Homo sapiens: one gene and its partners. Changing the gene in region 5 together with the main gene of any one other region gives a genetic interaction. Each region holds a gene or a part of one and is shown on either strand. Other genes may lie near its edges. The genes, in order: RAD23A, CHEK2, GINS3, POLI, ATR, MCM4 and POLA1.

Region 1 (2,640 bases), on a different chromosome or scaffold from region 5:
GCGTCACTGCCCTGATGGGCGGTTGGGAAGGCAAAACCTGCCCTGAAAAGCCTTTGGGTAGTGATTCTAGCCACTAAAGGCTTCCCACAGGAGGCTGGATGTGAGTGATGGGTGGGCCTCTGGAGGGCAGGGCCGAGGCCTCATCTGTGTCCTGCCAGGGCATGGAGGAGGGTGGCAGCAGGAGGTCTGTGCATTAGAACTAAACAGGACCCCTGACAGGGAATTCCTGGGAGCCCCGAGCCGGAACACGGTTCTGTCCAGGAGAGCCAGGTATCGGAGCAGCCGGCCACGGAAGCAGGTGGGTGTGCACATGCCGCATCTGCCCTCCAGGTACCTGACTCACATTACACTCCACCCCGCAGTGCTCCTAGGAGCCCGGCGTGGTGTCTGACTGCACCCCTTCCTACTACCAGCAGGAGAGAACCCCCTGGAGTTCCTGCGGGACCAGCCCCAGTTCCAGAACATGCGGCAGGTGATTCAGCAGAACCCTGCGCTGCTGCCCGCCCTGCTCCAGCAGCTGGGCCAGGAGAACCCTCAGCTTTTACAGGTGTGGTCCCAAGGGCAGAGGGAGCTAGGGCAGCCACCATTTCCCTTCCCTGTGGGCACCAGAGTCCATAACACGTAGGAATCGTTCTAGGTCCGGAAAGCAGGACTAAGCACATGCTTCCCCCACGCCCCTGTGCTTCCTGTGACCTGGTGACCCCCCTGGTTTCTCAGTCTTCCCAACCACCTTGTAAGGTGTGGGTGCTGTCAACATCACCTCCCACAGAAGAAGACACCGGAAACTTAGAGCAGCCTGTCATTCCCAGGGTCACGCAGCTGGTAGTGTGTGTGTCTGCCTCCTGCCTCGGGGTGGGGTCCTGGGCTGGGGCTCTGGCTTCACATACAGATGGTGCTGCGTAAATGTCTGTAAGGTGGCATGACGTCACCCAGGACAGCTGTGCCCCAGTTGGCTCTGGGACAACTCTGCTCAGTGAGGCTCCATCTTGCCCTTGAAGGTTCACAGGAAGAGTGGGGGAGTGGCCCCCTGGGTGCAAGTAGGTTCCTCTGGGTTCTCGGTGAAGTGCCTACCGGTCTTGGCTCAGGACCCTGCTGTCTGACCCTTCTCCTCTCACTTCTCAGTCCCTTGCCAGCTCCTCCTGGTCGGTCGTGTTCTTCATCTGCACTCAGCCCTCCCTCATAGTGTCCTGGGGCCTTCAGTCTGTATGGGAACCCCCAAATCTATGTAGCCAGCCCAGGCCTCTCTGAATGCCACACTCCATGGCTGGCTTAATTAACTCTCCATCAAAGTGCTCCCTAGACTAGACGTCTAAGACTTAGAACAGACCTCCCCAGTCCTCCCCGATCTCTGCAAGGATTAGCTTGGGGTTGCTTCAGCCCCAGGCCCTGGGGATCTGCTGGGGTCTACCCCTTGTCCTGTCTGCTCTTCCCACTCAGCCCCTCCCTGCACTCCAGCTCTCTGGTAGCCTCTTCCTGGGCCTCTGCCACTGCATAGTCCCACAGTCCACTTTTCAACCATGAGGCAGATGACTAAAAAGCACTTTCTTTTCTTTTTTTTTTTGAGAGGAAATCTCGCTCTGTCGCCCAGGCTGGAGTGCAATGGCGCAATCCCGGCTCACTGCAACCTCCGCCTCCCGGGTTCAAGCGATTCTTTTGCCCCCGCCCGAGTAGCTGGGACTACAGGCGCCCGCCACCACGCCTGACTAATTTTTTGTATTTTTAGTAGAGATGGGATTTCACCCTGTTAGCCAGGATGGTCTCAATCTCCTGACCTAATGATCTGCCCGCCTTGGCCTCCCAAAGTGCTGCAATTACAGGCATGAGCCATCACACCTGGCTGACTGAAAAGCACTTTCTTCTTTAATGTGAAAATGATCAGATGCATACAATGGTAGAGTTATATCAGAGCTTCCAGATACCCAGGTAGGGCACAGTGGCTCATGCCTGTAATCCCAGCACTTTGGGAGGCTAAGGCAGGCAGACCACTTGGTCAGGAGTTTTAGACCAGCCTGGCCAACATGGCAAAAACTCGTCTCTACTATAAATACAAAAAGTAGCTGAGCATGGCGGCAGGCCACTGTAGTCCCAGCTACTCAGGAGGTGGAGGCAGGAGAATCGCTTGAACCCAGGAGGCAGAAATTACAGTGAACCGAGATTGCCCCACTGCACTCCAGCCTGGGTGACAGAGTGAGAGTGTCTCAAAAAGAACAGAAACAAAAATGAACAAATGAACTTCCAGATACCTAAATCCAACACCCAGATGAGTTCACTTTTTTTGGTTTGGGGGCTGGTAGGTGGGAATAGAGACAGGGTCTATGTTGCCCAGGCTGGTTTTGAACTCTTGGGCCCAAGCAGTCCCTCCTGCCTTGCCTCCCAAATTGTTGAGGTTACAGGCGTGAGCCACCACACCCGGCCAAGTTCACCTTTCTAAAAGATCCACAGACCACGTCTTTTCCCATGTAACTGTCACCACCGTGGCTTCCCCCTGCTCTAGAAAATGGGTCTGACTTGGGCCTTCCTCTCTGGTGTCATTGTCTGCCTCCTCCCCCTTCCCTTGTTCGCTGTTTTTTGTTTTTTTTGTTGTTGTTGTTTGTTTGTTTTTGAGATGGAGTTTCGCTCTTGTTGCCCAGGCTGGAGTGC
Region 2 (3,500 bases), on a different chromosome or scaffold from region 5:
TTTTAGCTTGATGAAATCCCAGTTGTCTGTTTTTGCTTTAGTTGCCTGTGCTTTTGAGGTCTTACGTAAAAACCCTGTGCCCAAAAAACCTGTGCCCAAGATGAGTGTCCTGGAGCACTTCCCCAGTGTTTTCTTCTAGTAGTTTTATAGGTTTTGGGACTGGATTTCTGTCTACAGTCCTGGAGTTTTGCTGCCCTCACTTTGGTTTTTCACTCACTTCTCTGCATGGCTTTCCAATAGCAATAGCTCCCAGATAGCAAGCATGGGTGGGTGGGGGGAGTATTACATGCGTCACTTCACTTAATCCTCATGGTCTGTCTACTTATTTTCAGATGAGAAAACAGGTTTAGAGAAGTTGTGATCTACCTAAAGTCATGCACAGTTTCACTCAAGTGTCTGACTCCAGATCCGCTTGCCTCTAATCTCTCATAGTAACTTGTTGACACATTTTCTCCAGTTGTCCTGTCTTGCTTAAAAAGCTGTGGGGAAGACTCAGCCTGGCTCAGGTAGTATTAGACCAGCAGTCCCTGGTGTGGCATACTCAGTTTTGGCATTGCCTTCCTGGTATGTTTTAAAGAAAACTCATCAGAACCTTTGTATCTTTTTTATTTTCCTTGAGACAGGGTCTCGCTCTGTCACCCAGGCTGGAGTGCAGGCTCGATCACGGCTCACTGCAGCCTCAACCTCCTGGACTCAAGTGATCCTCCCACCTCAGCTTCCCAAGTAGCTGGGACTACAGGTGCACACCACCATGCCCTGCTAATTTTTTGTATTTTCTGTAGATACTGGATTTCACCATGGTGCCCAGGCTGGTCTTGAATTCCTGGGCTCAAGCAATCTACCTGCGTTGGCCTCCCAAAGTGCTGGGATTACAGACATGAACCACCACACCTGGCAGAACCTTTGTATCTTGAAAGCTGTGTAAATACAATCAGTGTGGGTATCTTAGTCCCTCCTTATCAGCGGTAGTAGTTTCACTTACCAATGGTCAGCTGCGATCTGAAACTATTAAGTGGAAAATTCATAAGAAATAGTCAATTCATGGCTGGGCATGGTGGCTCAGGCCTGTAATCCTAGCAGTTTGGGAGGCTGAGGTGGACCTGAGGATCACCTGAGGTCTGCAGTTTGAGACCAGGCTGGCCAATACGGTGAAAACCCTGTCTCTACTAAAAAAAATATACAAATTAGCCGGGCATGGTGGTGTGCGCCTGTAATCCCAACTACTTGGAAGGCTGAAGCAGGAGAATTGCTTGAACCCAGGAGGTGGAGGTTGCAATGAGCCAAAATTGTGCCACTGCACTCCAGCCTGGGTGACTGAGACTCCGTTTCAAAAAAAAAAAAAAAAAGAAATAATCAGTTCATAAGTCTTAAATTACATGGTTTTGCAGTGCTTGTGTTCATGTCACCCTTATATTTAATAATGGCCCCAAAGCAAAAGATGCTGGCAATTTGGATATTGTAAAGAGAAGCTGTAAAGTGTTTCCTTTTACTGAAAAGGTGAAAGATCTCAATTTAATATGGAAATAAAAAAATTTGTATGCTGAGGCTGCTAACGTCTATGGTAAGAACTAATCTTCTATTTGTGAAATTGTGAAGAAGGAAAAAGAAAGTTGTGCATAATTTATATAGGGTTCTGTACTATGCGAGGTTTCAGGCATCCACTGGGGGGTCTTGGATCTTATCCCCCTCTGATGGTGGGGACTACTATAGTGTTGTTTCCTATGTTCTCCTAGAGTAGTAGCCTGAGTTTGGGGAGGAAGAGAATGCCCTCCTCTCCCTCCCTTTTTTTTGTTAATCCGATTAGGTCAGCAGTGGATGTTACTTTGATTTTACTGGTGGTTCTGTTATCAGAGTCTTGGTTTGTTTTCTGTTCTTTGGAGATAGGGTCTCACTCTGCCACCCAGGCTGGTATGTAAGTGGTATGATCATAGCTCACTGCAGCCTTCAACTCCTGGGCTCAAGTGATCCTCCCACCTCACCTTCCTGAGTAGCTGAGCCCACAGCTGCATGCCATCATGTCTAATTTTCTTATTTTTTGTACGGGGGGCGGGGGGGGTCCCACTATGTTGGCCAGGCTGGTATTGAACTCGTGGCCTCAAGTGGTCCTCTTGCCTTGGCCTCCCAAAGTGCTGGGATTACAGGTATGAGCCACTGCACCCAGCCTGTTATGACAGTCTAACTGTCTATCAGGTTAATTCTAAGACAAGGGTGGAAGCCTCTGTTACGGTCTCCAGTTTATAAAAGAATGGTTCCTGCAAGATTACATCAAGGCCGGAAGGCCATTTAGGATGCTGAAAAGATAAGCCCTATGGTTATTTAGCATCACAAAGGGATAGGTGGAGTTGTTAAGAGCTGTCTTCCTTTGTGTTCTGCCTCATTAAGTCACTGGGTCCTTAGGTGTCAGGGAATATAGATTGAACGAACAGGTGTGTTTCACTTTAGGAGCAAGCCTGGGGGAAAAGGGGTACCAGTGACATTTTATGTAAATGGACCCTTTGGAGTAATGCAGCAGGTTATTGTACAATTTCTTTTTGACTTTTATATCAAGCCACCTGATTTTTTGTCTTCTTTTGCTTTCCAAAGTACACAGATGCTCCTCAACTTTCAATGGCATTATGTCTAAATAAAACCATTCTAAGTTGAAAATATTGTTAAATTGAAATTACATTTAATACACCTAAGATACCAAACGTCATAGTTTAGCCTAGCCTCCTTTAAACATGCTCAGAACACTTATGTCAGGGTACAGTTGGGCAAAATTATCTAACACAAAGATTATTGTTATTATTTTTTGTAGAGGTGGGGTCTCAAACACCTGCCCTCAAGCAATCCTCCTACCTCCACCACCCGAAATATTGGGTTTACAGTTGTGAGTCACTGCACCTGGCCTATTTTATTTTATTTTAAAATTTTATTTATTTAATTAATTAATTTTTTTGAGACAGGGTTTCACTCCTGTCACCCAGGCTGGAGTGCAGTGGCGCGATCTCAGCTCAGTGCAACCTCTGCCTCCTGGGCTCGAGCAATTCTCCTGCTTCAGCCTCCTGAGTAGCTGGAACTACAGGCGCCTGCCACCACACCCGGCTAATTTTTGTATTTTTAGTGGACACGGGGTTTGACTGTGTTGGCCAGGCTGGTCTTGAACTCCTGATCTCAGGTGATCTACCTGCCTTGACCCCCCAGAGTTCTGGGATTATAGGTGTGAGCCACTGCACCTGGCCACCTGGCCTATTTTATAATAAGGTGTTAAATATCTCATGTAATTACTTGAATACTGTACTGAAGGTGAAAACCAGAATGGTTATGTGAGGACTTGGAGAAGTAAGTGTCTACTGATTGCTTTCACAGAAAGTCTAAACATTGTTAAATAGAAGCATTGTTAAATTGAGGACTGTATATATGAGTTTTTTTTTTTGAAACGGAGTCTTGCACTGTTGCCCAGGCTGGAGTGCAGTGGTGCAATCTTGGTTCACTGCAACCTCTGCCTCCCGGGCTCAAGC
Region 3 (3,500 bases), on a different chromosome or scaffold from region 5:
AGATATTCTCTATCCTTGCAATTTTTTTTTCTACTTTTTTTTTTATCCTGTAAAACATGTGGACCAGGCATGGTGGCTCCTGCCTGTAACCCTAGCACTTTGGGAGGTGGAGGTGAGAGGATCACTTGAGGCCAGGAGTTTGAGATCAGCCTAAGCAACATAGCAAGACCCTGTCTCTAGGAAAAATTGAAAAATTAGCTGAGTGTGGTGGCACATGCCTATAGTCCCACCTACTCAGGAGACTGAGGCAAGAGGATTACTTGAGCCTAGAAGACCACTGCACTCCAGCCTGGGTGACAGAACAGGACCCCCTCTCTGAAAAAAAAAAAAAAATTGAAAAAATGTTAAAGTCTCTCATTATGATTATGGATTAGCCTGTTTATCCTTTTACTTCTGTTAATTTAGACATATATTAATAATTTTCTGGTAGATATAATGACCCTTTTATTATTGTCACGTCTCCCTTTATCTCTAATGCTCCTGTCTTTTGATTCATGTTTACATGACTTTTTTTAATCCTATTTTTAATTTTTCTGTGTCTTCATATTTAAGGTATGTCTCTTTTATGCAGCATATAGTTGGGTTTTGTTTTGTGTGCAGTGTGCTGATTTTTAATTGTTATATTTAATCCATTTACATTTAATTATTGACATATTTGTATTCATTTTTACCTTCTTACTATTTTCTTATGTCCCATCTGTTTTAGCTTTCTTTTTCTATCCTTTCTTGACTTCCTTTTGCATTAATCAAATTTATTTTATTATTCATTTACCTTTTTATTAGTTTATTTAGTTATATATTCTTCTGTTATTTTAGTGGCTACCTTAAATATATTACACAATCATTTCTGACCAAAAAGAATGTTATATAAGTTACTACTTTCACCACTTCACAGAAATGACTAGAATCTTAGAACACTTAAACCCATTTTTTCTCTTGTGTTATTGTGATGTATTCTAGTTTGACTCATTGAAAACCCCTGTAAAACATTATTATTATATACCCACTTATATATTCTTTTCATGACTTGTTTTTCCTTTCTGCATTTCTGTAGTTCTTTCTGGAATCATTTGCATTCTCTCTTCAGAATTCCCTTATTCTGGATCTTCTGGTGATAAGTCTCAGTTTCTGTCTGTGTCACAGATGCCCAAGACCAACCCAGATTTGATGATTCACTAAGAGGACTCAAAGGACTCAGCATATAGTCACACTCATGGTTAAGATTGATTACATCAAAAGGATATAAAGCAAAATTAGCAGAGGGAAAGGTTGCATGGAGTAAAGTCTGGAGGAGACCAGGCACAAGCTTCCAAGAGTCCTCTCCTAGTGGAGTCACACAGGATGCACTTAAATTCTCCAGTAATTTGAATTCTGATAAAATGTTTGAAATACTGTCTCCTAGGGAAGCTTGTTAAAGACTCAGTCCCCAGGGTTTTATTGGAGGCTGTTCATGTGGCACTTTCTGTCTAGCACAGACCAAAATTCAGACTTCCAGAGGGAAAGCAGGTGTTCAACATGAATCACATTGTTTGCACAGACAGTTCAGGCACACTCTCATCAGTTCTAGGACGGGTGAGAATCCTCCTGAAATCCAAGTTCCCAAATGCCAACCAAGGGCCAACCTTGCAGCAGGCCTTGCTAAGATAGCAGCCTCAGGCCTACTGTGTATCTTTCCTGCATACTTTCTCTATGGAAATGCCTTTATTTCACTTTTACTTTTAAAGGATATTTTCACTGGGTATAAGATTTTACACTCACAGTTATGTTCTTTTAGCACATAAAAAAAAAATTCCATTTCCATTGTTTTGTGGCTTCCACAGTTTCTGTTAAGAAGTTGGCTTTTTTTTTTTTTTTTCTTTTTTGAGACAGAGTCTTGCTCTGTCGCCCAGGCTGGAGTACAATGGTGTGATCTCGGCTCACTGTAACCTCTGCCTCCTGTGTTCAAGCGAGTCTTCTGCCTCAGCCTCCTGAGTAGCTAGGATTACAGGCGCCCACCACTATGCCTGGCTAATTTTTGTATTTTTAGTAGAAACGGGGTTTCACCATGTTGGTCAGGCCCGTCTCGAACCCCTGAGCCCATGTGATTTGCCCGCCTTGGCCTCCCAAATTATTGGTGTGTCTGGAATTGGTTCCTTCAGGTGGGTTCTTGGTCTCGCTGGTCTCGCTGACTTCAAGAATGAAGCCGAAGACCCTTGTGGTGAGTGTTACAGTTCCTAAAGGTGGTGTGTCCGGAGTTTGTTCCTTTAGATGTTCAGATGTGTCCGGAGTTTCTTTCTTCTGGTGGGTTTGTGGTCTCGCTGGCTTCAGGAGTGAAGCTGCAGACCTTTGCAGTGAGTGTTACAGCTCATGAAGGTAGTGGGGATCCAAAGAGTGAGCAGCCATCAAGACTTACTGTGAAGAGCTAAAGAACAAAGCTTCCACAGCGTGGAAGGGGACCCAAGCAGGTTGCTGCTGGTGGCTTGGTGGCCTGCTTTTATTCCCTTATTTGGCCCCACCCACATCTTGCTGATTGGTCCATTTTACAGAGAGCTGATGGTTCATTTTACAGAGTGCTGATTGGTCCGTTTTACAGAGTGCTGATTGGTCTGTTTTTACAGAGTGCTGATTGGTGTGTTTACAAACCTTTAGCTAGATACAGAGCACTGATTGGTGCATTTACAATCCTTTAGCTAGACAGAAAAGTTCTCCAAGTCCCCACCCAACCCAGAAGCCCAGCCGGCTTCACCTTTTATTGGGATTACAGGCGTGAGCCACCGGCCCCTGCCAAAAAGTTGGGTTTAACTCTTAATGTTCATTCTTTAAAGGCAGTGTGTTCGTCACTCCCATCTACAGCTGTTTTTAGGATTTTCTCTGTCTTTGGTCTCGTAATTCAGGTAATATATGCCTAGTTGTGATTTTATTAGTATTTATTCTATTAATACTTGTTATTCATAATGTTCCTTGAATCTGTGGTTTGATACCTTTTTTAATTTTGGATAATATATAGCTATTATCTCTTCAGACATTTATTTTGCCTCAATCTATCGCTCCTGCCCATCAAATTACATGCATGTTGAACTTTGTCTTTCTTTTACACCTTATTTCATACATCTCTTAGGCTCTTCTCTGTTTTTTCTCTAGATACTTTAGTCTGGTTATTTTCTATTGACCTTTTCTCATTCACAGTCCTGTCTTCATCCAAATCCAATCCAGTAAACATGTTAAATTTGATTTAATCTATTGACTTCTTAGGTTCAATTATTGTATTTTTCAGTTCTGGAATTTCCATTTGATTTCTAAGTTTATCTTAAAGTTGGCGCCTAATTTCTCTGCTATTCGGTGTCAAATAGGGGGCTTACTTCCCTCCCTTCTTTCTCAGATCTTAGGCCCTCATGTCCTGGTGGTGTTGGCAGCCTTGAACTCAATATTGGTCTGTCTAGTCCTGTGCAGTTTGCCAAAAGCTCTGCTTCCACACCCACAAAGCTGCTCCCATCTTTTTGCAACAGTTCTCCCTTGTGAGA
Region 4 (3,500 bases), on a different chromosome or scaffold from region 5:
TACATGATGATACTTATTTTAATTAAGTACTGGTTATCACATTATTTGAGATAAAGATTTCTAGTTTTAGTACCATGTTCTTACTATTCTAGTTTGCTTAGTATGTGATCCCTTTCCTATTAGAAGGCTGATTTATTATTAATAGATTGGATTAATAAGTATTCTTAAATGGAATCTTAAGCATTGATATTTTGATATCTTAAGTTAGCTACTATGATTGAAGACAGTGCAACTTAATTTTAATAGCCTATAATGCATATATGAGGCAAAATATTTTAATCTGTTAAAAATCTTGTTTTCAGAGTAGTCCAGTGATTTAGCAAATGGGAAAGGTATAATCACCCAGTTAACATTGACTGATTTTTTTGCTATGGGACAAGCACTTTACTGAGTGCTTTAAATATGTTAGTCCATTTAATCTTCACAACAAAGCATCAAGGTAGGTAGTACTGTTGTTTGTCCATTCCTTCTTACTTCTCTTCTTTCCTTCCTTCCTTCCATTCTCTCTCTCTCAAGATGAGGATACCGTACTTTAGAAAGGTTAAATAACTTGTCCAAGGATAAACTTAGATTCAAGTCCTAGGTGATTAAGAACTCTTGCCATAATCATACAATAAAGCTTGGAGTTGGTACTAGAGCTTTAGAGTTTTCATAACTTTGAATTATTTTATATTAACTGTTTTATATTAACTGTTAATACAGTAATATTTTATATTAACTTTCTAGTGAGTACAATAGCTTGCAGATAAAAAACTGTTAATATAAAAGTGAACTAAATGGCTCAAACTAAGGACAAGAGGTAAGTTAGTGAAGAATGTATTGAATATTTATTTGACTGTACACTGATAATAATTAGATATAGTTATTTGAGTTTGTGCTAATCCTTATTTATGCTTCTTTGATAGTCCTTTAGTGAAGAAGATTCATTTAAAAAATGTTCATCTGAAGTTGAAGCTAAAAATAAGATTGAAGAACTACTTGCTAGTCTTTTAAACAGGTGATTTTCAATCCATTTTGCCAAGTCATCCTATGTATTCATTCTATATACGGTATGTGGAAAGAATATTTGATGTTCCATCTTGGAACTGACAGATTATCTGGAGACTAAACAATGTAAAAATAATTTATCATGGGATTTCTCTGCTTTATAAACTGTTGTAAAGATGGTAATAGGGGGTCTTACCTAAATTGAATTCATTGGTCTTAATTCTGTTAACACTGTGGTTATGCTATGGATCTAAAGCTGCAGATAGTTACCTAAAGGGGTTTTATGGATATTTCTAACATTTCTAGACTTATTCTGGTCTTCAGGTGAGAAGAAGAAGTTTTAATTTTTCCCTGTGGCAATTGCAAAGCCTCTGCCCTCAACCTAATAGTTAGTTGCATTTCATTAAGTTAGTACCATGCTAAATACAAATACATGCGAAATACAAAACCCGTGAAATTAACCATTTATCTGTGCCTCTGCTAATAGTTACTTGCATTTCATTAAGAAGAAAAAAATGCAAAGAGGAATAATACTGTCATAATTCTAAAACTCCTGATACAGGAACAACTATATAAATTTGTGATTGTTGAGGATAGGAAATTATTAAAGTAACAGTGATGGAAGAAGCAGAAGAACCCTTGTATCTCTTTTGCCTCAGACTGTAAAATAAAATGGAGTCGAAGGAAAGAATGGCTAGCTGGCGCTGTGTGTGAGTAGGGTGAGTGACTGCAGGTGTGTGCAGGGTTTCTGATCTGTATGTAAAGAGTATCAACTGGGGTTATAAATATATGAGTAGTACAAGATAAACTGAAAAGGAAATTTAATTTTGTGGTGCTCCTTGTCATTATACATGTATTTCTCAATATTCCATATTCCACAGATGAGTATTATCTGTTTTCGTCCCATTTCTTTGTTTCTCCTCTTCTTGTTAGAAATTTCTCAAATTGTGGTTTCAGGGCTCTAACAGTTTAGAGTAGGTGTGCTTCTCTAATGATTCTAGGAGGACTAACTGTATTTAGAGAAAATGGTTTTTGGTTGGTTCTAAGTCTGAGAAAACTGAAGAAGTGAAATTTCCTCCAACTTTGCTGTCGTGTGCAATGTGGCACTCAAATGTCTTGAGCAGAGCCATGCAGCTCATTGTTGGCTGCATGCAGCTGGGGCTGGCTGTATGACTGGCCTCCCGTGATATGACTCAGGCTGGGCCTGCGAGTATGCTAGTGAAACTGGGTCATTTGCTTCAGCTAAATAGAAGACTACCCTGAAATGCCTAACCTTTGGAGACAGTTCTTCACATAGAAAAACCACAAGAAGTATAAGTTTTACAGGTTCTCTTATTTGAAGAGTCAACCCAGAAGTGAGACCAGGTGCTCTAAACCTGTGACATACAAAACCTGTGAAATTAACCATTTGTCTGTATCTCTGCTTCCCGGCTCCTTTTCTCCCACACCACGGGCCCTTATTTCAGTGACTGAATTATAACACCATCTAAGTGACTTGCAAAAAAAAAAATTACAGGAGTGTGTGTGTGTGTGTGTGTGTGTGTGTGTGTGTATTTGTGTATAATTAGTTTTGTTTTCTCTAGAGTATGTTATGATTAATACTATAGGTATGTAAGAAATGTAAAACCGTATTATTTTTAATCCATCCTCTAGGCACTAGTTTAAGATTGCTTACGATACAGCCTTTTTCTAATGTGTCTTAATTAGCATATCATACTCTTTGAATTGCATAATTAATATAACACGTTTAACTGGAAGATATTTAAACTAGTAACCATTTAAGGTATTTTATCCTAGTTAAGCAGCCATCGAGAAGTTTTGTCACAAAGCAGTAAGAGATAGAAAAAATTATTTACTACAGAACTATTTAATTTTTTATGTTTTTGCGATAGGGTCTTGCTCTGTCACCCAGGCTGGATGGCAGTAGTGCAGTTAGGGCTCACTGCAGCCTCAGCCTCCTGGGCTCAAGCAATCCTCCCACCTCAACCGCCAGAATAGCTGGGAAGGCACCTGCCATCAAGCCTAGCTAATTTTTAAATTTTTGTAGATGAGGTCTTGCTATGTTGCCCAGGCTGGTCTTGAACTCCTGGGCTCAAGTGATCCTCCCACCTCAACTTCCCAAAGTGTTGGGATTACAGGTACGAGGCACCGTGCCTGGCCCAGAACTATTTTTTTCAGATCAGAATCTTCAAGTTGAGTGTGTTTAACAATGTGCAATACTTGCATTTTATGTTTGAGATTTGGTTTTATATGCATTGCCATGTGTATAAAAAGGGAAATGTTATCCTTTAATGACATTTTTTCCAGTACTACTTAAGTGAATTTGTCATATCACTAAAACCTTTGTTTCAACACCAAAACCAAGACATTTGCATGAAACTCTTCTAAAAAATGCATGTACTCATATTGTATATTAATTATATACTAAATATAGTATATGCTCTTTTAAGATATTGCTCTAATAAGCTATCATATAATGGTAATAGTGATTACTCTTTAACAAAAGTAATGTC
Region 5 (3,500 bases):
GCCGGGCGTGGTGGCACGTGCCTGTAGTCCCAGCTACTCGGGAGGCTGAGGCAGGAGAATCACTTGAAGCTGCGAGGCGGAGGTTGCAGTGAGCCGAGATCACACCACTGCGCTCCAGCCTGGGCGACAGAGCGAGACTCCGTCTCAAAAGAAAAAAAAAAGAAAAAGGGCCGGGTGCGGTGGCTCACGCCTGTAATCTCAGCACTTTGGGAGGCTGAGGCGGGCGGATTACCTGAGGTCAGGAGTTCGAGCCAGCCTGGCCAACATGGTGAAACCCCGTCTCTACTAAAAATACAAAAATTAGCTGGGTGTGGTGGCACACGCCTGTAATCCTAGCTACTTGGGAGGCTGAGGCAGGAGAATTGCTTGAGCCCGGGTGGCGGAGGTTGCAGTGAGCCAAGATCGTGCCACTAACTGCACTTCACCCTGGCCGACAGAGCGAGACTCTGTATCAGAAAAAGAAAAAAATTCACTCTTTTTCTTTTACCACTATTTGAGATAATAAGTGGGGAAAATGTATGAACATTTTACAGTGCTATATAGAAATAAATTGTGACATATATGAAATATATGCTATTATTTATAAGTAACTGTCTTACTACACCCTAAGTTGTTTTGTCAGAAGTGATGGACTTTGCTAATCACTCACACATAACCCACTGTGAATCCTCTAGGTAGAGTTAATCATTCCCTGCTTTGGGTGTACATGATACTTGCTTTTGATTATTTATTTATTTATTTATTTATTTATTTATTTATTTATTTATTGAGACTGAGTCTCGCTCTGTCGCCCAGGCTGGAGTACAGTGGCGCGATCTCGACTCACTGCAATCTCCGCCTCCCAGATTCAAGCGATTCTCCTGCCTCAGCCTCCTGAGCAGCTGGGACTACAGGCGCCCGCCACCACACCCAGCTGATTTTTGTGTTTTCAGCAGAGATGGGGTTTCACCATGTTAGCCGGGATGGTTTAGATCTACTGACCTCATGATCCGCCTGCCTTAGCCTCCCAAAATGCTCGTATTACAGGCGTGAGCCACCATGCCCGGCCGCTTTTGATTATTTAAGTGCATTCCTCTCCTCTCCCCAGCAACTATTCTGAGTTCTTTGAAGCAGAGGATCTTGTTTTACTTGCCTTTTGAATTTATTAAATTATTTGCGTCTGTACCCATCCATTCTTTCTATGTTTATGAAAGAGTTACCCTCCTGTCCAAGGATTGTCTTTTTACTTATATCTGGTTCCAAGAAGAGGAGTCACATCTCAAGAATTGGTTGCTTAGGTCTTTCCATTATAAGGGAGAAACAAAACAAAGCCCTCTTGATCTCATACAGTTCTTTAGTTATCACCAACTCTACTTCTCTTCATTTCATGATCAAGCTTTGGAAAGAACCCGCTATTCTCAGTATTCACATTTCATTAGATTTTCAGCCCCTTGCAATCTGGCTTCTCTCTTTACTGCTACAGGAAAATTTTAAAAGTCCAAAAGGCATACAAATACCTAAACATAAGAACTAAAACTATGAAACTCTTAGAAGTGAACATAGAGGGGGCCGGGCATGGTGGCTCACACCTATAATCCCAGCACTTTGGGAGGCCAAGATGGGTGGATCACCTGAGGTCAGGAGTTCCAGACTAGCCTGACCAACATGGAGAAACCCTGTCTCTACTAAAAATATACAAAATTAGCCAGGCGTGGTGGTACATGCTTGTAATCGCAGCTACTCAGGAGGCTGAGGCAGGAGAATCGCTTGAACCCAGGAGGCGGAGGTTGCGGTGAGCTGAGATCGCGCCATTGCACTCCAGCCTGGGCAACAAGAGTGAAACTCTGTCTCAAAAAGTAAATAAATAAATAAAAATAAGGGAACATAGAGGGAAAACATTATGACACTGGATTTGGCAATGATTTCTTTGATATGACACAAAGCACAGGCAGCAAAATAAACAGATAAATTGGAATTCATCAAAATTAAAAACTTTGTGCATCAAAGGGCAGTATCAATAGAGTGAAAAGGCAACCCATGGAACTGGAGAAAATATTTGCAAATCATATGTCTGATAAGGAGTTTAATATCTAGAATATATTAAGAACTCCTACAGCTTAACAACAAATATAACCTGATGAAAAACAGAAAAAGAACTTGAATAGACATTTCTCCAAAGAAGATATACAAATGGACAAATAAGCACATGAGAAGATGCTCACAATTACTAATCATTAGGGAGATGCAAATCAAAACCACAGGATACTGTTTCACACCCATTATGATAGCTATTAATAAAAAAACAGTTGGGGCTGGGCATGTTGGCTGATGCCTGTAATCCCAGCACTTTGGGAGGCTGAGGCAGGCGGATCACGAGGTCAGGAGATTGAGACCATCCTGGCCAACATGGTAAAACCCCATCTCTACTAAAATACAAAAAATTAGCCAGGCATGGTGGTGCATGCCTGTAGTACCAGCTACTTGAGAGGCTGAGGCAGGAGAATTGCTTGAACCCGGGAGACAGAGGTTGCAGTGAGTTGAGATCATGCCACTGCACTCCAGCCTGGTGACAGAGCAAGACTCTGTCTCAAAAAAAACCAAAAAACAAAAAAAATCCCACAAAAAAAAAACACAGTTGGGCATGGTGACTCATGCCTACAATCCCAGCACTTTGGGAGGTCAAAGCAGGCAGATCGCTTGAGCCCAGGAGATTGAGACCAGCCTGGGCAACGTGGTGAAACCCTGTCTCTACAAAAAATACAAAAAATTAGCTGGGTGTGGTGACATGCACCTGTGGTGCCAGCTACTCAGGAGGCTGAGGTGGGAGGATCTCCTGAGGCTGGGAGGTTGAGGCTGCAGTGAGTTATGGGTGCACCACTGCACAGTAACCTGGGCAACAGGGTTAGACCCTGTCGCCAAAAGGGGAAAATAAAATAATAATAAAAAAACACCCAGAAAATAACGTGTGTTGGTGAAGATGTGGAGAAATTGGAACCCTTGTCCACTGCAGGTGGGAGTGTACAATGGTACAGCCACTGTGGAAAAGGGTATTAGCGTTCCACCAAAAATTTAGTTTTTATGTGCTTCAGAAGGGAGGAAGTGAATGCTAATTGGTCCATAGGCAGTCATGGGTGGGCCTGGAAAAAGCACCCTAAGTTCTCGCTGTGGTCCGTGTAACTGGCAGCCAGGCTTCCAGGCTTCAAGCTGTTCCTGGCTTGAAGGTGGGTCTTCACTGGGGACCCACCCCTTTCCTCCCAGGAGCCTACTTCCTGCTGCCATCAACCTGCCACCCACTACACCGAGGCTGTTCGTGCCGAGGGGCGCCTGCAGGCCCATATTGAGCTGCCCTCAGCCTACCGCTTGGCCTGCCCAAAGTCCAGAGGGAGATGAGGCAGCAGGGGGCTGGTGTGTCAGTGCCGTCCTGAGCACATGCACACGCGGCCTGGTCCTGACAACACCTGGGCTCCCCCACAACTTTGCTCCGAAATTGGTGTGGGTGCCGGGAGCGGGGAGAGGCCAGG
Region 6 (3,500 bases), on a different chromosome or scaffold from region 5:
ATCTCGTTGACAAGGTCCAGCCTGGGGACAGAGTGAATGTTACAGGTAAGAGTGTAGGTTTGCACCAGCACTTGAGCATGTCTGGCTTGCTTTCAATGCTGTGCTTTAGTGAGTCATTGGACTTGGTCACAGGTCCAGTTCTACCTCCAGTTGTCACTGCTTGTCTTTGAGACTGTGGGGTATATCCCTGCTTTATCTGCCACCTTTTTAACTGAGTACCATGGCCCAGCAGTATGAAATTGTTCAGTTCTTCCCAAACTTGAATGTTGGAGCTCATGGTTCGTGTGGTCACTCGCCTCTTGATACCTCAGTATCCTGGAGCTGTGTGTGTCTCAAGTCAGTACTGTTGGCATCATGAGAGAGCAGCCTCAGACAGGCTTGTATGGGTAAAGTTTTGAGTTATGCCATCAGCTCAGAGAAGTATTACTCACCAATGCTGGAGTTTTAAGTAATTTTTACTTAATTTCCCAAATGTATAGCCAAGGGTTAACATTTGTTTGTTACAGAGAAAAATGAGTCAGTGACTTGTTTCCATGTGTAGAAGCTGAGGTTCAGGGATGCATAGACAGCAGTAGCTCAGATGCCACGGTAAATCAGAACCCAGGACCCAGGTCTCCTTCTCTTGCTGCCACAAGAGTGCTCTTTGCACAGCACCATATGAGTGTGGCAGTCCTCCTTTTGATGCTGTAGAGTCACAATGGATTTTGGTTGGGGGCAAGGGAGTGTTGATGGCAGCACGGTTCTTCATTGATGGGCAAGGTGGCGACGGTCGCGGAGTGCCTGAATCTGCTCCTGAGCGGAGGGCCTGGGGCACACCACGCATCGGCTCTTGTCTTCAGTGAGGCAGTGCTCACCCTGTTTCTTCCCCAGTGTGAAGTCCCGCAGTTATCACTGGCAATCTTCCGTCGTAAAAGTACTTGAAGTCATGGAGAATTTGAAAGAATGCGTAGTTTTTAGTGAGTGACGTGCGCATTTCCAGTCCTGCTACCCTGAAACCTTTGATAAAGTATTTAGTCCAATATTTTTGTTTCCTCACCTACAAAGTGGAGTTAATGTGATGATACATGTGTGAGAGTGTTTGGGGCCAAGGGGCTGTGGAAAGTGCTGTGTAGATGTGAAATAAGTATCAATGCTGCTCTGTGAGATAAATCATTCCGGGCCACTTTAAACATAATCTTCCATCCCTAGCCTATATTGGAGTGAAGAATAGTGTGTATTCTAAGAATGTGTGTAAACTGGTTTGTTGTGTTAAACAAGAATTACACTGACCCACTGAATAAACAAGGACAGTGCTCTGTGCCATTGCGTTGAGATAGCTGTAACGGGGAAAGGCCAGGCTTTCTCCAAAAGCTGCAGGAATCAGCCTGGAGTTAAAGCCTTCTGGTTTGAAATCCAGAAAAGACGAACATCAGATCAGACCTCTGTATGTGAGGAGCCTGGCTTCCAGAAGAATGCATGATTTGCATGCTTTTGTCGGGGGTGGTGGGTAGGTTGGGGGGACCTAGTCTAGTTTTAATGACTGGAGGATTTTAGCATTTTGTTGCAGTCAAGTAAGTGCTAGGCAGATTCTGTACACTCAACTTAGGGAAGTAAAAATACTGCTTATTAAAAACAACCACGAACCCAGCATTGAGCTAGAAGCACAGCAGCTCCATTTCACCCTCAGGGTGACTGTGCCCGTGGGCATGCTCACGTAGCTACAGTTGCCCTGGAGCACTGCTGACTAGTGGGCCCAGGTGAACACGTCCTCGGGTCTATCATTTGCAGAAACCTGGGTTCTTTCTCTTTTGTTTTGTTTTGTTTTGTTTTGTTTCATTTTGTTTTGTTTTGTTTTTGAGACGGAGTTTTGCTCTCGTCACCCAGGCTGGAGTCCAATGGCACCATCTTGGCTCACCGCAACCTCCGCCTCCCAGGTTCAAGCCATTCTCCTGCCTCAGCCTCCCGAGTAGCTGGGATTACAGGCATGTGCCACCACGCCCGGCTAATTTTTGTATTTTTAGTAGAGACAGGGTTCTCCTTGTTGATTAGGGTGGTCTCGAACTCCCAACCTCAGGTGATCCGCCTGCCTCAGCCTCCCAAAGTGCTAGGATTACAGACATGAGCCACCTTGGTTCTTTCGAGCTTGTCCGTTTCCTGCTGCTATTTCCCTGCTTGCTCATAGCAAGCGGGAGCTTTGCAATGTGGGCCTGAGTCCTGGGCTTGGGAGGGTCATTTAAGAGACGGTGGAGCTCACCCTTTCCAGGGCCAGCCCGACGTGGTGCCTCGCTCTGAAGTGCACCTGTTGCCTACGCTGGTTGCTGAGCCACTCGGAGGAAGATATGGGAAGGTAAAAGTGCATCTCCTGGTTGTGCCCTCAGGCATCTATCGAGCTGTGCCTATTCGAGTCAATCCAAGAGTGAGTAATGTGAAGTCTGTCTACAAAACCCACATTGATGTCATTCATTATCGGAAAACGGATGCAAAACGTCTGCATGGCCTTGATGAAGAAGCAGAACAGAAACTTTTTTCAGAGAAACGTGTGGAATTGCTTAAGGAACTTTCCAGGAAACCAGACATTTATGAGAGGCTTGCTTCAGCCTTGGCTCCAAGCATTTATGAACATGAAGATATAAAGAAGGTAACAGTGGATTTTAAACTAGGGGTTGGGATTTACAATTCTTTGGGATCAAATAGTATAAACATCCACTCCGCCACTCGAGCCATCCGCCATAAAGGACAGAGTTGTGGCCTGTTAGAGCAAGTGCTGGCAACCTGACTTGCCATTGGTTGAGAAGAATCATAGCATTGTCTATCCTCATCTCTGGTCTAAACTTAGGTTTCTAAACAGAAGAGGCCACACAGTGTCAGAATAGGGACTTGCATGGCCACCATTCTGGTGTAATGATAGGTGCTGATGAACTGGTCAGTGATAACTTAAAGCATATCAAGCACTTTCACGAGCCTTTTTATACCTTCCTGTGATTTCTTAATTGTAGTTCTTTATAAGAGAGAAAAGTACCTCTAAAGTTTAAACTACATCTCAGTTAACTGTGCAGAAAATGAATGTTTAGACATGTCTCTGATTATTTAGGGAATTTTGCTTCAGCTCTTTGGCGGGACAAGGAAGGATTTTAGTCACACTGGAAGGGGCAAATTTCGGGCTGAGATCAACATCTTGCTGTGTGGCGACCCTGGTACCAGCAAGTCCCAGCTGCTGCAGTACGTGTACAACCTCGTCCCCAGGGGCCAGTACACGTCTGGGAAGGGCTCCAGTGCAGTTGGCCTCACTGCGTACGTAATGAAAGACCCTGAGACAAGGCAGCTGGTCCTGCAGACAGGTGCTCTTGTCCTGAGTGACAACGGCATCTGCTGTATCGATGAGTTCGACAAGATGAATGAAAGTACAAGATCGGTATTGCATGAAGTCATGGAACAGCAGACTCTGTCCATTGCAAAGGTGAGTCGCCTTCTCCACCGTGAACATGGACGTGTTTAAAATATGTGGACCCTTGAAAGACAGG
Region 7 (3,500 bases), on a different chromosome or scaffold from region 5:
AATATTTGCCATTTGTCACCATTTGTTCAAGTTAAGTGAGGCAACCAGATCATAAAAGGTTGCTAAAAGGATTTCAGTAAAACAGGAATAAAGCATTTTTTTTGTTTTTGAGATGGAGTCTCTCTCTGTTGCCCAGGCCGGAGTGCAATGGCACGATCTTGGTTCACTGCAGCTTCCACCTCCCAGGTTCAAGCGATTCTCCTGCTTCAGCTTCCCGAGTAGCTGGGATTACAGGCGCCCACCACCACGCCTGGCTAATTTTTGTATTTTTAGTAGAGACGGGCTTTCACCATGTTGGTCAGGCTGGTCTTGAACTCTTGACTTCAAATGGTCCACCCGCCTCGGCCTCCCAAAGTGCTGGGATTACAGGCGTGAACCACCACACTGAGCCCAGGACTAAAACATTTTTAATGTAGGTACTTGTATAAAGGAGTTCCATGGGGCATTTCAGATGTTGGCACAATGTGGCTGATTTCCCTTTAACACTGTGATGTTAATTGTATGGCTCTAAGAGTTCATGCTGAGCAGTAGTAATGTTGTTTTTAAAGATTGAGTCGAAATGACTTTTTACTCAAAATGATTTTTAAAAATAGTTTTCTGGTATCTCCTTGATAATATAGTGAATCACTTAAGTAAGAGACAAAGTCTGTCTTCAACCAACAAAAATAATAACGCCAGTTCCCCTCCCACCCCCAAAAAAGAAAGTTGGTCAGTATAGTAATATTAATTGGACTATTTTGCATCTCTTTTGTTAAAAGCTTAATTTGGTAAGGCAGGTTGTTTCTGTTACTAGATGGTTAAAGACCAAATCAGTATTTGCCAGTGATTCCTGTAGAGTAGGCTAAAAAGGAGGTGAAAACTCAAATCCCGTAATTATTATAAGCCTTATAGGTGTGGCAGAAATCCAGTCAGCTCTGGCCACTGGATTCCAAAAGCTCTGTCCAAGTTTTTTCCTAGGGTATTAACTCTTCAGATGGAGTTGTTTCTCCCGTACTCCATTTGAGAAAGGTAGAACTCTTTTTTTTTTTTTTTTTTGAGGTGGAGTTTTGCTCTTGTTGCTCAGGCTGGAGTGCGATGGCATGATCTTGGCTCACTGCAACCTCAGCTTCCCAGGTTCAAGCGATTGTCCTGCTTCAGCCTCCCAAGTAGCTGGGATTACAGGTGTCTGCCACCACGCCTGGCTAATTTTTATAATTTTAGTAGAGACGGGGTTTCACCATGTCGGTCAGGCTGGCCTGGAACTCCTGACTTCAGGTGATCCACCTGCCTTGGCCTCCCAAAGTGCTGGGATTACAGGCGTGAGCCACCACACCCGGCTGAGGTAGAACTCTTGAGAGAATGGGAGAATTTTTTTTTTTTTTAATCTCGCTCTCTCTCCCAGGCTGGAGTGCAGTGGTGTGTTCTTGGCTCACTGCAACCTCCACCTCCCAGGTTCAAGCGATTCTCCTGCTTCAGCCTCCTGAGTAGCTGGGATTACAGGCGCCCCCCACCATGCCCAGCTAATTTTTGTATTTTTAGTAGAGATGGGGTTTCACCACGTTGGCCAGGCTGGTCTTGAACTCCTCACCTCAAGTAATCTGCTCACCTTGGCCTCCCAAAGTGCTGGGATTACAGGCGTGAGCCACTGCACCTGGCCGAGAATCAGGTACTTTTTTTTTTTTTGAGATGGAGACTCGGTCTCTTACCCAGGCTGGAGTGCAGTGCATGATCTCGGCTCACTGCATCACTGCAACCTCCACCTCCCGGGTTCAAGTGATTCTCCTGCCTCAGCCTCCTGAGTAGCTGGGACTGCAGGCATATGCCACCACGCCTGGCTAATTTTTGTATTTTTAGTAGAGATGGGGTTTCACTATGTTGGCCAGGCTGGCCTCAAACTCCTGACCTCAGGTGATCCACCCACCTGGGCCTCCCAAAGTGCTGGGATTACAGGCGTGAGCCACTGTGCCCAGCATTTGTTAATTTTTAATAAGTATCTATGAGATTTTGCAAACCAGCCCACCAGAGTCTCATCTGGAAAGTCACTGGCCTTTCCCCATGGGCAGCTGCAGCAGTGGTGTGTATCTTTCATTTGTTGCTTTAGCTGTGCAGAGGTTGTCTGCTTTACTCATACCAGTAGCTCATAGTGTTCTGACCCTCTTGCAGTCAGGCAGCCAATATGATTGGAGGACCTGCCACTCTCTGGACTTGCCTTTCAAATAGCTCAGCGTTTAAGTCCTTGTGTGGTTTCAAGACCTGAGGATGGTGGAGTTTCAGTGGTAATACAAACAGGGTCACTCAAAAACTATTTCTGGTTTGCCTGTAGAATATGCAATATGTTTGTTTTGCTAATTTTTGGAAGGGGATGGATGAGGGAGATTTTCCTTCTGAATTGTATTTGGTTGATTGAACAGGCATGAAAATTATCGTCTATTTGCAGAGCGTACATCAGCTAGTGGAGAGGGAAGTGGCATGCCTTACAGGTTTGCTAAGTGTAGGAGAAACCAGTCTAGAAATTACAAGTGAATAATTCCCCAAAGCAGCTAATGAAGAATTGGCTATAATTCAGTTTGTTTTTTATGAAATAGATGAGTAATTGATGGTATGACAAGTGTATTATGCTAATGGAATCATTTAATATCTTATGTTAACACCCACCTAAAAGGAATACTAAGTTAATTGATGTCTATTTAAGGAAAACCCTGTAGTGGTGTTGAATGTCAGAACTCATGATTTGGTTGCAGCTACTCCTTCAGTCTGCCATTCCAGTTTCAATTTGACAATTTTTTCATCAGAATTATTTAACACTTTGACTCCTCTATTTGAAGCTTTTTTCCTGAAACTTGTATAATGGTAGGTCGAGGACTTCACAGGTGTTTATGAAGAAGTTGATGAAGAACAGTATTCGAAGCTGGTTCAGGCACGCCAGGATGATGACTGGATTGTGGATGATGGTAGGTGGGGCGGAGGTGGGGGCGGGGATGTTGCTTCCTAGGCACTGTGTTAGTTGCTTCTTGTAGATTCTCACTCATGTGGTGGAGTTGCTGCTTTGCCTGGGCAAATGTAAGGCACTGTTAGGATCTTACCTTTGGTTTGGATTTTCCTTTAATTATTTGAGGATGAGGAAGCAGAATAGCAGGACATTTATTTGGGGATATTTTGGAGAATCTAGGCACATACCTCAGGATGTAGTATAAATCCTCCAGGTAATGGCTGTGTAAGAATTGGGAGGAGCCCCTTGTCTGTGGGGCCAATGCACAGCGCTTGGAATTAAGGAATGCAGGTTCGGGATCCATCATTCCTACTTTCCAATTCTATGACCTTGGACAAGTCACTTAATCTCTCTGCGCCTTAGAGTCTTCATCTGTAATATGGGGATGAGAAAACTACCTTCTCCCAGAGTTGTGAGGTGTATATGAGGTTCTAGGTATGAAAATTAACTTGGTCAGTAGAAAGCACCATACAAAGGCTGGTCCTAATGTCCTGTGCCCCTTCTGAAAGCTCATTGGTTCTCACTTGTAGGG

What was found.
Region 1: changes in ATR (region 5) and RAD23A are lethal when combined (synthetic lethality), as found in Homo sapiens cells (one large-scale study listed by BioGRID).
Region 2: changes in ATR (region 5) and CHEK2 are lethal when combined (synthetic lethality), as found in Homo sapiens cells (one large-scale study listed by BioGRID).
Region 3: changes in ATR (region 5) and GINS3 are lethal when combined (synthetic lethality), as found in Homo sapiens cells (one large-scale study listed by BioGRID).
Region 4: changes in ATR (region 5) and POLI are lethal when combined (synthetic lethality), as found in Homo sapiens cells (one large-scale study listed by BioGRID).
Region 6: changes in ATR (region 5) and MCM4 are lethal when combined (synthetic lethality), as found in Homo sapiens cells (one large-scale study listed by BioGRID).
Region 7: changes in ATR (region 5) and POLA1 are lethal when combined (synthetic lethality), as found in Homo sapiens cells (one large-scale study listed by BioGRID).

What each region holds. Positions count from the first base shown.
Region 1 is NC_000019.10:12,948,862-12,951,501, forward strand, and holds part of RAD23A (UV excision repair protein RAD23 homolog A), read left to right. Parts: intron 1-219; coding exon 220-298; intron 299-413; coding exon 414-547; intron 548-2,640. UniProt on the Homo sapiens protein: Multiubiquitin chain receptor involved in modulation of proteasomal degradation. Binds to 'Lys-48'-linked polyubiquitin chains in a length-dependent manner and with a lower affinity to 'Lys-63'-linked polyubiquitin chains.
Region 2 is NC_000022.11:28,735,321-28,738,820, reverse strand, and holds part of CHEK2 (serine/threonine-protein kinase Chk2), read left to right. Parts: exon of another isoform or gene 1-1,537; coding exon of another isoform or gene 1,538-1,561; intron 1,562-3,500. UniProt on the Homo sapiens protein: Serine/threonine-protein kinase which is required for checkpoint-mediated cell cycle arrest, activation of DNA repair and apoptosis in response to the presence of DNA double-strand breaks.
Region 3 is NC_000016.10:58,398,971-58,402,470, forward strand, and holds part of GINS3 (DNA replication complex GINS protein PSF3), read left to right. Parts: intron 1-3,500. UniProt on the Homo sapiens protein: Required for correct functioning of the GINS complex, a complex that plays an essential role in the initiation of DNA replication, and progression of DNA replication forks.
Region 4 is NC_000018.10:54,283,017-54,286,516, forward strand, and holds part of POLI (DNA polymerase iota isoform a (long)), read left to right. Parts: intron 1-726; exon of another isoform or gene 727-799; intron 800-905; coding exon 906-997; intron 998-3,500. UniProt on the Homo sapiens protein: Error-prone DNA polymerase specifically involved in DNA repair. Plays an important role in translesion synthesis, where the normal high-fidelity DNA polymerases cannot proceed and DNA synthesis stalls. Favors Hoogsteen base-pairing in the active site.
Region 5 is NC_000003.12:142,568,734-142,572,233, reverse strand, and holds part of ATR (serine/threonine-protein kinase ATR), read left to right. Parts: intron 1-3,500. UniProt on the Homo sapiens protein: Serine/threonine protein kinase which activates checkpoint signaling upon genotoxic stresses such as ionizing radiation (IR), ultraviolet light (UV), or DNA replication stalling, thereby acting as a DNA damage sensor.
Region 6 is NC_000008.11:47,967,441-47,970,940, forward strand, and holds part of MCM4 (DNA replication licensing factor MCM4), read left to right. Parts: coding exon 1-45; intron 46-2,357; coding exon 2,358-2,617; intron 2,618-3,070; coding exon 3,071-3,436; intron 3,437-3,500. UniProt on the Homo sapiens protein: Acts as a component of the MCM2-7 complex (MCM complex) which is the replicative helicase essential for 'once per cell cycle' DNA replication initiation and elongation in eukaryotic cells.
Region 7 is NC_000023.11:24,700,418-24,703,917, forward strand, and holds part of POLA1 (DNA polymerase alpha catalytic subunit), read left to right. Parts: intron 1-2,833; coding exon 2,834-2,930; intron 2,931-2,963; exon of another isoform or gene 2,964-3,500. UniProt on the Homo sapiens protein: Catalytic subunit of the DNA polymerase alpha complex (also known as the alpha DNA polymerase-primase complex) which plays an essential role in the initiation of DNA synthesis.